4 separate regions of the Homo sapiens genome follow, and regions 1, 2 and 4 are each reported to be linked to region 3. The links are microRNA targets in miRTarBase. Many come from high-throughput screens and were not tested one by one. Region 3 holds a microRNA gene; each other region holds the end of a gene's coding sequence.

Region 1 (3,142 bases), not on the chromosome of region 3:
TAACCTCAGTATGATGACCAATATGCTAATACACTTTTAAGAAATATAATGTACAAATGGGAATTTTTTTTTTTTTACAGCCTTACATTTTCTTGTGATGGCCACCATTTGTACACAGCAAACAGTGATGGGACCGTGATTGCCTGGTGTCGGAAGGACCAGCAGCGCTTGAAACAGCCAATGTTCTATTCCTTCCTTAGCAGCTATGCAGCCGGGTGAATGCGAATGAACTTCACGTTCTCCAAAGCACTTTAACTCCAAACTAGATTTGTTGACTTCACCAGTTTTAGGAGGTTGAACCTAAAGAAATGGATGACTGGACAAACCATCCAAATAATGATAAAGTCTATTCATCTGCACAAAATTCTGAAGAGTCACATGATCCTAAGAGGAAAGTTCTGTTCTATTTTAGTGATAATCTGGAAGATTGTGTCAATATGCACTAGCCAACAAGTTTTAAGCCTCGCATGGTACATTAAAATGATATTCTTAAAATTTTTTCCCACCAAGGTATTCCAAAGAAAATATTAAGGTCTCCCCTTTTTCTATGATTCCAAAAGGACCAGTAGAATTTAAATTGGTTGGTTGATTGTTTATATAAAACACACTAAAATTATATTTTAAAAGTTTACTGCCATGAAATACTCCTCCCACCACACACACATGCTCCAAAAGAGGAAAGAAAAAAAGATAATTTTTAGGACTTGATAATTGCTTTCTTTGAGAAGCAAATTATTCAGTAGGTGCCTCTGTACCAAATATTTTATGGAATATCTAAATACTAAAATAAACTATGAATGAATCTCAAAATTAGGCAGTTTTTGCCAGTTGCTTTCTTAGCTCAAAGGAGAACCAGAATTTTTTTGACAGCCACAAACAAGAATACAGGTATCTTGGATTTCAGACACATTCTGTTTCTTCATAAAAATTTTACTTAAAATCTGTAACGCTAGATATTGACTATCCTTAGTTGAGTCACTGAGGTTTAAACACAATGGTAAGTCTTAAAGTCTGCTATTTACAGAGCATTGAATCTGTACCAATTTGCAATAGAAAGCCTTCAGTATGCAAGAAGTTTGCATGGGTATTAAGAACACAGCCTAAATAAGGCATTTGATCTAATCTGCAGGAAGAATTTTCTTCCCCAAAACAGAATTATAAAAGCTTACTTTAAACAGGAGGCAGAATAATTCTTTTAGGAAACCATTTCATTCTGTTTCTACTAACCTATACCATCTGAGAATTCTAGGAAGAATAATAAAATCTCGTGTATTCCACAGCAAACTTACATACCATAAAGACAGAATTCCTAAACATCTTGGAGCCGTCTGTCTCTCCCATATGATGGCTGTCTGTATATTTTTACTTGGGGTGCTGCTTTATTGGCTTTGAAAACACTGTCAGATAAGCTCAGTAATATGTTACCATGGGATAAAAATATGTATCCCTGCCTAAGAATAACTTGTGCATTTGTTATGGAAATTTAATTCATATGGTGTTTACAGTACTACTTTTGTAACTTCCAGACTTTCTAAAACATTCTGCTTAAAAACCATATAAAATATAATTCCAAAGTCTCTGCTGTCAAGATAGATTCGAGAGAAAGCACGTGGCCATGTATGCTTTAACCTTAAACTGCATACACATGTAGTGATACCTAGGCTGCATTTAGATCACCGTGTGCTCAGGCCAGGTGTGAATCCTGAGGTCCATGGAGGTGCAGAGATGAGATTACTCCTATTCACGTTGAAGTGATTTGCTTTGTTAACAAAAAATTGCAGCTATTGTCTAGCTTTCATTTTTTTACTGAGAACTTTAAATTAGTCCCCTATTAGAATAGGGTTGCTACTCATCTTTTTTTAAAAACCGAATTTCATCATTTATCTAAAGAGAAAATATGCAGAATAACTGGTCTTGTTAAGAGTGCAATATTATATTTTTATGTAAAAATAAAAATTAATTTGGGGGGATTATTTATTCAGCATGAAACCTAATATGTATATGTTTGAAATACTTCATAATGTGCATGTTGTAGCAAACATTTCTGTAAATTATCACAAGCTCTGTTACCTTTATATACACTGCCTCTTCAATTTGGAAATAAATTTCATAAAAATAGATGTAAACACCTCTTCTTTAAGCTATTTAAATATTATGAGCAGATCTCAAATCGATGGCTTTCTGTGTAACCCACATAGGTTCTGTCTTTAGCTCCACTATGCATTTATATCACTAGAAAAAGATAACTTTCTTTTTTTTTTTTTTTTTTGAGATGTAGTTTAGCTCTGTCGCCCAGGCTGGAGTGCAGTGGCACGATCTCAGCTCACTGCAACCTCCGCCTCCCAGGTTCAAGCGATTCTCCAGCCTCAGCCTTCCAAGTAGCTGGGACTACAGGAGTGTGCCACGACGCCCGGCTAACTTTTTTTTTTTTTTTTTTTTTTTTTGTATTTTTAGTAGAGACGGGGCTTCACCGTGTTAGCCAGGATGGTCTCAATCTCCTGACCTCGTGATCCACCTGCCTTGGCCTCCCAAAGTGCTGGGATTACAGGTGTGAGCCACCACGCCCGGCCTAACTTTCATTTCTTATTGTGGTTTTTGTACTAAAATTTTATGTTTCAACCTTTACTACCCTTAGATGGTGTGGACACTAGTCCCAAGATCAAACCGCTCATTTTAAAGAAAAAACCATCTGCCCACCCCCGACCCCACAGCAGATCTATATTGAGCCCTTGCCAGGTGCCAGGCACTGTACCAAGTGCTGAGGATATCGTGCTGCACAAAGCACGGTGGTCCCCTGCACTCCTGGAGGTTACAGGCTGGTGGAGAAACCACCATAAATAACACACAATATGTACAGTTACAAACCATGGTAAGTGTTAGGTAAAATATAGGGTACTCTGAAAGAATGTAAGAGGAAGGACTTTATTTAGATTGAGGTGATCTAGAAAGCCTCTTGAAAAATTGAAATTTTTGGTGAGGCGTGGTGGCTCATGCCTGTAATCCCAGCACTTTGGGAGGGTGAGGTAGGCAGATCACTTGAGATCAGGAGTTAGAGACCAGCCTGGCCAACATGATGAAACCCCATCTCTACTAAAAATACAAAAATTAGCAAGGCATGGTGGTAGGCGCCTGTAGTCCCAGC
Region 2 (3,142 bases), not on the chromosome of region 3:
GGGTGCCTGTGGCCAGGCCATCGTGCTAGAGCGTCTGGCTGGCCAAGGCCAGCCCTGCAGTTCCTGCAGTTCCTTATTCGACACGCCCAAGTTCATTCTTGAGAGAAAACAGGGATTGCACTGGCGCCAAAGTCAAGGGCAGAACATAGAGGGAAGAGAAATGCCTGTGCCGTCCTGCTGCTCCCCATTCCCAGGGCACTGGCCGCTTCATTCCACACTGAGCCCCAGCCTGGGCTGTCCTGCTGCTCCCCATTCCCAGGGCACCAGCTGCTTCATTCCACACTGAGCGCTTGCTTCAGAACCCAGGCACCGAGGGCTCTGTTCCCTGCTGATAGCGTTCTTCTGTTTTGAGTTCTTGCTACTTTGGGATTCATATGGGCTCTATATTATTTTTAAAATTGTGCCATTTTAAACTTATTTCCCTCAGAGAAATGGAAGGTGAACTTGAAGTTATTTGGGAATCTACCTTCAGGGAAAACCGAAGAATCCGAGAACTTCTCCAGGACACACTCACGAGGACAGGCGTGCAGGACAACCCCAGAGCTCTGGTTGCCCCCAGCCTCAATGGCGTCTCTCAGGCAGACCTGCTGGACGGCTGCGATGTCTGCTCCTATGACCTGAAGTCTCATGCCCCCACCTGCTAGAATCTGCGGGAGCCCGTGGTGTAGCCTCCTCTGGCCTGAAAGGTCTGCCTCACACAGGCCTTCCCTGCAGGGCAGCCCATGGTGGCAGCCGGAGGTGCGTAAGCCCACTGAACGCTGCAGGGCAGGGAAGAAATAAATGGTCTCATAGTTTAATCCATTGATAACATTTTGCTTTATTTTTTAATTTTTTTTTTTTTTTAGAGCTAGGGTCTCACTCTGTTGCCCATGCTGGAGTACAGTGGTGCAATCATAGCTCACGGCAGCCTCAAACATGTTTGAGATCCTTCTGCTTCAGCCTCCTGAGTAGCTGGGACCTCAGGTGTGCACTGTCAGGCCCAGCTAATTTTTTTCTTTTTTGTTGAGATGAGGTCTTGCTATGTTGCTCAGGCTGGTCTTGAACTCCTGGCCTCAATCTGTCCTCCTGCCTTGGCCTCCCAAAGTGCGGGAATGACACGTGTGAGCCACTGCGCCTGGCCCATTGTGCTTTATTTTAATAACGTGCTGCTGAAATCTGTTTTAGCCAGGGCATGTTCTCTGGCCACATTGCCACTGAGATGAGTTCTATGACACCCACTGCTCTGGTGAGTAGGTGGCCTGCTGAGCAGGCCTGCCTTCCAGCTCCTAGATCTGCAGCTGGGAAGTGCTGGAAGGGTTGGGCGGGCAGCTGAGCCCTCGTGCCATGTGTCAGATGGGGAAGTGTCACCCGAGGAGCCAGGCCATGGCACCGGCCCTGATGATAGCTGTGCGTGAGCTCTGGGGGCCTTTTCTTGTTTGGTCAAAAAAAACAAGGTGCTGCTGCTGTTCATGCCCTCTAAGTTGTACAAACCTTTTCTGCCCTCTCCCCTAGCCCTTCTCTATCCTCCTGAGCAAGTACTTTATTCTCTTTTGTTTAGTTGTTACTTTTGTTTGTTTGTTTTGAGACAGGGTCTCACTCTGTTACCCAGGCTGGAATGCAGTGGTGCAATCACCACAGCCTTGACCTCCAGGCTCAAGCGATCCTCCCATCCCAGCCTCCTGAGTAGGTGAGATGACAGGTATACACTAACATGCCTGGCTAATTTTGTAAAAAAAAAATTTTTGTAGGCCAGCCATGGTGGCTCACTCCTGTAATCCCAGCACTTTGGGAGGTCGAGGCAGGCGGATCACCCGAGGCCAGGAGTTCGAGACCAGCCTGGCCAACATGGTGAAACCCCATCTCTACTAAAAATACAAAAATTAGCTGGGCATGGTGGTGGGTGCCTGTAATCCCAGCTACTTGGGAGGCTGAGGCAGGAGAATTGCTTGAACCTGGAAGGCGGAGGTTGCAGTGAACCAAGATCACGCCATTATACCCCAGCCTGGGCAGCCTGGGCAACAAGAGCGAGACTTTGTCTCAAAAAAAAAAAATTTTTTTTTTGGTAGAGATGGGGTCTTGCTATGTTGCCCAAGCTGGTCTCAAACGTCTAGCTTCAAGCAATCCTCCTGCCTAGGCCTCCCAAAGTGTTGGGATTATAGGTATGAGCCACCGCGCCTGGTCTGGGAAGGTAATTGATTCTGGAGCCACACAGCTCCCCACCCATGTAATGAGAGCCCTGGCTTTGAGCTAAGATAGAGTCCCTGCCCCACTGCCACCACCAAGAAGCATACCAGGGGGCCATGGTTCTGTCCCATGTGTGTTAGATGACGTGCCACCTCCTCAGGAAAATTACCCCAGCCGCTCAGGACCATTCAGTCCCAGGCATGCTGGAGGGACTTGGGGACATTGGGCTACAAAGGACCCTAACTGTGGGACTCAGGGGTGGCACCCTGCAGCATCTCCTTTTCAGAGCCCCTCGCAGTGAAGTCCTGCCTTGTTTCAGGTGGGAAGGAGGCCCCAGTACTGGTCCTTGGTCATGTGTAGAAGTTCTACGTGTGATCTTTGATTGCCAGACGGAAGGGTGAGATAGAAAATCATAGTTCTTTTATGACTCTATAAGCTTGTTCAACAGTTGAATCATTGTAATTTAATTTTATTTTACAAGCGGTAGAAAGACTCACTGGGATTGAAAACTGTGTATCATCTCCCTAGGAGATGACCTAACAAATAACTGTGATGCTATTTCAAAGGCATTTACGGCCGCTCTGCAGCCTCCTGTAGACAGGCTGACAGGCGGCGGCAGCCCAGCGTGGCTGCGCGGGGCAGGAGTGCTTGTCAGCAGGAATGCTGCTCCCGCCATCGTGACCTAGAGAACCACTGTTGACATCCCTGTCTTTCTGCCTTTTATGCAAACATTTTATTCTTTTGAGAAGTGTCCACTTTTGTTCTTATGTTTCTGCTTTAAGTTTTTCACACAGTGCAAACATACTTTGCAAGTATGGGGACTCCTGGATGGCACTGTGACCAGGGCAAGGGCAGGTGTCCCACAGACACTATCTTCTGCCCAGCCTCCTGCTGGGTGCCATAGGAAATGGGCAGAGAAGCCACGAGTCCAGGATGCCAAGGAGGGCGGGGCAGGCAAGGCAGAGAGGCACCTGGGTGC
Region 3 (3,142 bases):
CCCACAAAATGGCGATTACAGAGGCCTGGGGCCAGCGCTGTCCATGCCCCAGCACTGGGCATCTCTGCCAGCGCTTGGCCGCCATCCCTCCCCCAGCTACGCACTCCTGGGAGCACCAGCTCCTGGACATGTCCTACCCAGGGATCCCGATGTGGGGATCAGATAAACCAGATATACCACTCAACCCTTACCAAAGTGAAGTTTAGAGACAGGGTCTCCCTCTGTCACGCAGGCTGGAGTGCCGTGGTGCGATCATAATTCACTGTAGCCTCTAACTCCTGGGCTTCAGCGATCCTCCCACCTCAGGTGTGTGCCACCACGCCCAGCTAATTTTTTTTTTTTTTTTAACTTTTTGTAAAGACAGAGTCTCACTATGTTCCCAGGCTGGTCTCAAACTCCTGGGCTCAAGCAATCCTGCCTTGGCCTCCCAAAGTGCTGGGATTACAGGTGTGCGCCACCGTGCCCAGCCTCATAGTGAGATTTAAAGGCATGATCTGGGTTGGTGAGGCCAGGAAAGAGAAGGCAGGAACATAGCTAATATCTATGTCGGGACACAAACAGATATGTCACGTTATTTTCTTTAAATGGCTCCAAATCTCGACCTGAAGAGGTTGGGAAACTCAACCTCAGTGGTTATTTGGGCTTCCCCATCACCCACGGTGCCTGGAATCCTGGCCATCTTGAGGCTGGGGATCTTGGTAGAGGCCTGGTTCAGGTCCCAGAGGAGACACGCAGTTACTCTCCCACATCCTGGCGTCTCCGGAGAGACAGTGGGGCAGCAGGTCTCCACCAAGGGGATTCCACTGACCTCCCACCCCTCGCTAATCTTGGGACAGCTCTTACTCAGCCTCAAAGCTTTTCTGTCCCACTCCTTTTCCACAGTCTCCCTAAAGGAACTCAGCTTTTCAAACAGCACAGCCAGGAAGAGAGGTTGTCTGCAGGCCGCTGGAACTGGGAGTTGAAAGCACGAAATTTTAACATCTCAAGAAAGTATGCTGCCCGGTACTATGCTTGGCACTTTAATTTATAATCTTTGCCACCAAAGCCCTGCCAGAAGTGCCCGGCGGCTCCAGGTTCTAGATGGGGAAGTTGAGGCCGGCGGCAGGCGCGCTCCACCGGGCGGGGGCGCGGCCCGGGAGCGGAGCGGCCGGCAGGGGGCTCCCCGCGCCGGTCTCCGCGGGAGGAAGCGCTGGCAGCTGCTCGGACGGGTCAAAGGAGGAAAAGGGAAAATTACTGGGCTCCGGGGCGGGAAGGACTGCGTGACTGGGAGGAAGGCACTCCAGACTGTCGAGTAGGGCCGCCCGCGTCGGGACCCCATCCCCGGGGCAGTGCGGGCCACCCGGGACCTGGGAACCCGGGCCACCCCCCACCGCCGTCAGGGTCTCTCCCGCCGGTGCCGCAGGCTGGAGCGGGCGTCGCGGCCGGGGGCGGTGCCGCCTAGGGGCGGGCGAAGGGCGGGCCGGGGCGGGGCGCCGTCCGCTCGGCTCCGGGAGGCGGTGCGGGCGGGCGCTGGCCGCGTCCGCCCGCCGGGAGCCGCGGGGCGCGCAGCCTTCCTGATGTGTCACCAGCACGTGGAGCCAGGTCGGGCCGCGGCGAGCAAGCCGACCCCCCCAACTTTCGAGGGGTCTCGCCGCCCCGCTCCTCTCCCGGCTTCGTCGGGCTCGCTCTCCTAGCGGAGGGGGCGGCGGCGGCCCCCAGGTCCCGGGCAGGTCGAGCGAGGCCACGGCCCCCGGCCAGGAGTTCGAGGGGCTCCCGGAACGTCGGGGCGCGGGCCCCGGCTAGCGGCTATGGCCCCCGTGCCCAGGCAGCGGTGCGGGCTCGGCCTTGCGGGAGGGTGCGGCCTGCTGCGAGAGGTCGGCCACGGCTCCTGCCCCGCGCCCCGCGCCCCTCGCCCGCCGAGCTGAGCGCAGGTAACCGAGGCAGAGCGGAGCTGGGCCTCGCAGGCGCGGCGTGGGAGCGTGGCGAAGTTTCTCGGCGCATAACTCTTGCGCCCCACTCGGGAGTGGGGCTGCGGTGGGGAGGCTTTGGTCCCCGCACCTCCCCCTCCCCCAGCGCTGTCCCTCGGCCTGAGCCGAGGCGGCCCGGGGGTGGCGTGGAGGCCGCCGAGCGTCGTGTAACCCTTGGAGGGCTGGGTTTGGAGCCCGCGACCCGAGGTCGGGCGGGGCGGTGGACTTTCCCGGGGAACGCCGCCTGAGGGACACCCAGAGCTTCGGCGGAGCGGAGCGCGGTGCACAGAGCCGGCGACCGGACCCAGCCCCGGGAAGCCCGTCGGGGACGCACCCCGAACTCCGAGGATGGGAGCTGAGGGCTGGGTCTTTGCGGGCGAGATGAGGGTGTCGGATCAACTGGCCTACAAAGTCCCAGTTCTCGGCCCCCGGGACCAGCGTCTTCTCCCCGGTCCTCGCCCCAGGCCGGCTTCCTCCCGGGCTGGCGTGCGCTCCGGCCAGGCTGCCTCTCAGGTCCACGCTGGAGAAGGAGTGGTGAGGTGCGCTCGCCCCGGCTGCGTGCGGTGATTCGGGAAATCCCCGCACTTCGCTGGAGAAATAGCGACGCTCTCGGAAGTGTGAGTCGGTCACTGCTTGGGGTCCGTACCCTTTGGGCAGACGTGGACCGCGCCCCGGCGACCTGGGTTGAGTGGACAGACGGGACCCGGCTTACCCATGGGCCAAGCCCTGCCACTTACCGAGGCCTGCCCTGCTGTGCTTTCCAGGGCGGCAACCTTGAGCTTGGGGGTGGGGAGAACGGGGCCTGACTTCTAGAATTGCCCCTGGGGAGGTGGGAAGCGGAGGTTTGGCCCGGTGGCGCAGGAAGCCCCTGTTCCTCTCCCAAACACCATTTCATTAAAGATGGATCTTTGTGGATGTGTTCCCAATGGCCGGTCTTTTGTTCCCTGACCGATGCAACATAATGTGGACCCACTCTAGTCCTCTTCAAGTTTTTTGCTGGAATTCCTTAAACTCTCCTTTAAAGTCTCTTATCTATTCCTCTAGTGCGTTTGCTTCTACTCCCCGAAAACAAAAACCCACCAACCCCTGAAACCTCGGGTTTGCCTGGTGTTGGAACTTTGGTTATTTGTCCTTTGTTTGTGTTGTGTTTTTGGCTCTTGGCCGTGGAAAAACATCTGGGGACATGCAGTGAGGTG
Region 4 (3,000 bases), not on the chromosome of region 3:
GTAGCTAGGAGGACACCCAGCCTGCCCCGGTTGTCAGGGTGACTTCGTGCGCTGCAAAGAAAGTAAGCGCAAGTTCTTCTCTCCACCCTGAAAGCATCCGTTTCACAGACGATTCTAACCCTCCCTGGAGGGCGTGAGGTGGACACCCACCAGGGCCGTGGGAAAAGAGCCTCCAAATCCTAGACATTTGCTCGTCCCCATTCCATAACCACAGGTGCCTTTGTCTTTCCAGCTGACTTCCACAGGTTTGCAGAAATGTACCCTGCCTTCGCAGAGGAATACCTGTACCCGGATCAGACACATTTCGAAAGCTGTGCAGAGACCTCACCTGCGCCAATCCCAAACGGCTTCTGTGCCGATTTCAGCCCGGAAAACTCAGACGCTGGGCGGAAGCCTGTTCGCAAGAAGCTGGATTAGGACCCAGGGTTGCGGAGAGACGCGGCCCCTCCCGCGTGGACATCACCGCCATGAGCCTCTTTGCGAGTGACCTCTGGGCTCCGCTCCTCACTCCTGCTGTACAGGCACTGTCTTCAGCCCGAGTTCCAGGGGCCTCGGGGGCTGTTTGTATCTTGTTCCTTTGTGAAGTGTGTTGCAGAACCGACGCTTACTGTGCGAGAATCGGAGGGCGCGCACGCGGATCCCCCGCCTGGCCTGGACCCCGTGGGGTCAGGTTCCCTGCCGGGCGGGGGGCACCGGTGCCGCCCCGTGTTCTCCCACGGGGCCCTGGTTTCGAGTCTCTGTCACAGCCTCTTCCGGCGGCAGCGTGCACCGGGCGGGCCTCCGTGCACACTCAGCACACGCCTGCCACACAGCGTGCGCTTGCGTGTCACTCTGGCACGAAACCTGTCTGCCTCTGTGGATCCACAGCCTGGCAGAGCCGAGCCGTCACCTGATTTTTCAGTGTTTCTACCTGTGTGCTGGAGCTCATGAGTATTTTATAAACTCCATTTAGGTACTTCAGGAAACATGCAGCATTTTTTAAAAAATGAAAATTGTTTTTCTACTTCATTTTTCCTTTTAGAGTCAAAGGATATTTATTTATAGGCCTTTTTTTTTTTAATATAGAATCTGAGGCTGTTTGGGCTTTGACTTAAATTTCCATCAGGCCTCTCTCCAGCAGGTAATCCCTCTCCTTCCGCTGGGTCCCCTGGGGAGGTGTGAACTCAAGGGCCTAGCCCCAAAACACTTTTTCTGCTTTTCTTAATCCTTTTCCAGTCCCCTCTTTTTTTATAAACGTTGGCAGTTTGATGTTTCTGTTTCGGCATAACGTAATCCATTTCACTGTAGCCTAAACTCCAGTCCGAGGTTGGATATTGTTCAAATGAGCAGGGCCCGAGCTGGAAGCGCAAGGCAGCCGCCGCCGTGCCGCTCCTCCCTTGCCCTCAGGCCAGGTCCCTGCTGGAAGCGGCTGCATCTTCCTGTCAGCCCTGGTTTCCATGGTGACTGGCGTCACGCTGCCACCCGAGTATGGCTGACCTTCCTGCAGAGAGAGGAGCCGCAGTCTTTTGCTTGTGGAAGGAGACGCTGGGCTGTGCGGTGCGGAGGGTGATGAGGATGTCTGGTGACAGCCGTGCGGACACCACTCCTCTCTGCAGCACTGCCTCCCAGCGCCAGGGTCGCGGGCACATCCCACTGAGAGCGGGGGTCCTGCCCCATCTTAGAGTCAAAGGCAGAGGGGCTTCCAGGCCCTGGATGGGGTATTTTGGTGTCACCTGAAGTCCCTCTGACATCACCTTGTTTCATCATTTTTTATGACAGAATTAGAAACCCATCCTTCAAGCACAATAATCATCACAGACTTGAGTTTGCTTCCTAAAGCAAAGGCTCCGGGTTTGTTTGGAAAATTTTTTTGATTTCTGAAATGAATTGATTTTTATATTTGGGGCATCTCTATAGAAAGTGACCACCAAGGCCAGTAAGTACGGGAAAAAATGTTTACTAACTTCCTCAGAGATTCGTGATACGCGTTTCTCCACTGACAGACATTTAAAAACAACCTTCAGCTCCGTTTCAATCAATCACCTCGACTTGTTTTTTAGCATGGACACTGCCAGCAGGACAGACAGGGATGGAGTAAACCGAAGTCAATTTCAGGGCTCTTGGCGTGTTGGACACAGAAGAAATCCTAGTGCAGCCTTTGGTAGCTAACAGTCACTGATTTTATAATTGGAGAATGCGTAAAGATTCATTTTTCAAGGAGAAGAGCCTGCAAATGGCCAATGAAGGAGGTAAATAAACTAAGATATTCCGAGGGAAGGGACCCAGGCCACCTCCCTTCCGCAGGTCTGCAGATGAAGGGTTTTTTGAATGAAATGCCACTGTGCATTTTCAGAAAAAAAAATCTCTGATAAACAGACTTTGAATGGATGTTTGTTCCTCCTGATTCTCTTTTCTCTTCGTGGCGACTTAGAGTTGGCGGATATTCGGAACTGTGAATGTACATAGCGTTGAGTTAAACCCCTTGTGTGTGAGACAGGACGCAGCGGGCCCCTGGTGGCCTGGGGGCCAGACCCGTGGGCAGGTGGGGCATGGGCCCTGGCCTGCGGGGACCTGCTGGGGTGTGAGGGCAGAGGGAGGGTTGCCATGAAGGAACTTGGGATTTTCAATGGAATAAGTAAAACATAAAGTCTATACTTGGGAATGATGTTGTTTTGTGTGGTTCTTTATTAGAAAGACAACAACAGGCATTGTGAGAGGAGAGCCAATCCAGATGAGATTTTCTTGGTGTGGTTCTAGCATGTTTGGAAAACACAAGAATTGAAATTCTGTAGAAAAAGCTGTCTTGGTGGCAAAGGGACGCTCCGGAGTGTTCTGGTATTTTGCGGACAGTAGCAGACATCTTACAGAGTTGAAACATGGATGGCTGGCTGCCTGCCTGGTGGGTTGACTTACGTAATTTCTCAATTTTAAGCACATGCACCTTAAGCGTGTTTTGTCAAGCAGAGAGAAAAATGGATCTGGCATTTAGTCCTACTGAGTCAGTAAAAGGTTTGGAACTAG

The links. Region 3 holds the annotated microRNA hsa-miR-193a-3p (AACUGGCCUACAAAGUCCCAGU, at 2,344-2,365, shown strand). A microRNA usually pairs through its seed, bases 2 to 8, with sites in the 3' UTR of a target mRNA and lowers its output. Matches are read on the target gene's strand: a 7mer-m8 pairs with bases 2 to 8, a 7mer-A1 pairs with bases 2 to 7 and ends in A, and an 8mer does both.
Region 1: the mRNA of LYST is a reported target of hsa-miR-193a-3p. The part of its 3' UTR that is shown has no 7-base or 8-base seed match.
Region 2: the mRNA of CEP89 is a reported target of hsa-miR-193a-3p. The part of its 3' UTR that is shown has no 7-base or 8-base seed match.
Region 4: miRTarBase lists LPCAT1 as a target of hsa-miR-193a-3p. Seed matches in the 3' UTR shown: 8mer at 1,911-1,918.

What each region holds. Positions count from the first base shown.
Region 1 is chr1:235,660,017-235,663,158 of GRCh38, reverse strand. LYST (lysosomal trafficking regulator) reads left to right here. Exons shown (of 53, transcript NM_000081.4): 53 at 81-2,118. The coding sequence ends at 219. Among named protein-coding and RNA genes, the nearest start is that of GNG4, 12 kb to the right of the region's middle.
Region 2 is chr19:32,876,664-32,879,805 of GRCh38, reverse strand. CEP89 (centrosomal protein 89) reads left to right here. Exons shown (of 19, transcript NM_032816.5): 19 at 428-3,142. The coding sequence ends at 644. Among named protein-coding and RNA genes, the nearest start is that of SLC7A9, 8.5 kb to the right of the region's middle.
Region 3 is chr17:31,557,707-31,560,848 of GRCh38, forward strand. MIR193A (microRNA 193a) reads left to right here and starts at 2,290; the gene lies at 2,290-2,377. RefSeq lists a silencer at 1,072-1,561 and an enhancer at 1,303-2,093.
Region 4 is chr5:1,461,068-1,464,067 of GRCh38, reverse strand. LPCAT1 (lysophosphatidylcholine acyltransferase 1) reads left to right here. Exons shown (of 14, transcript NM_024830.5): 14 at 233-2,641. The coding sequence ends at 417. Among named protein-coding and RNA genes, the nearest start is that of SLC6A3, 17 kb to the right of the region's middle.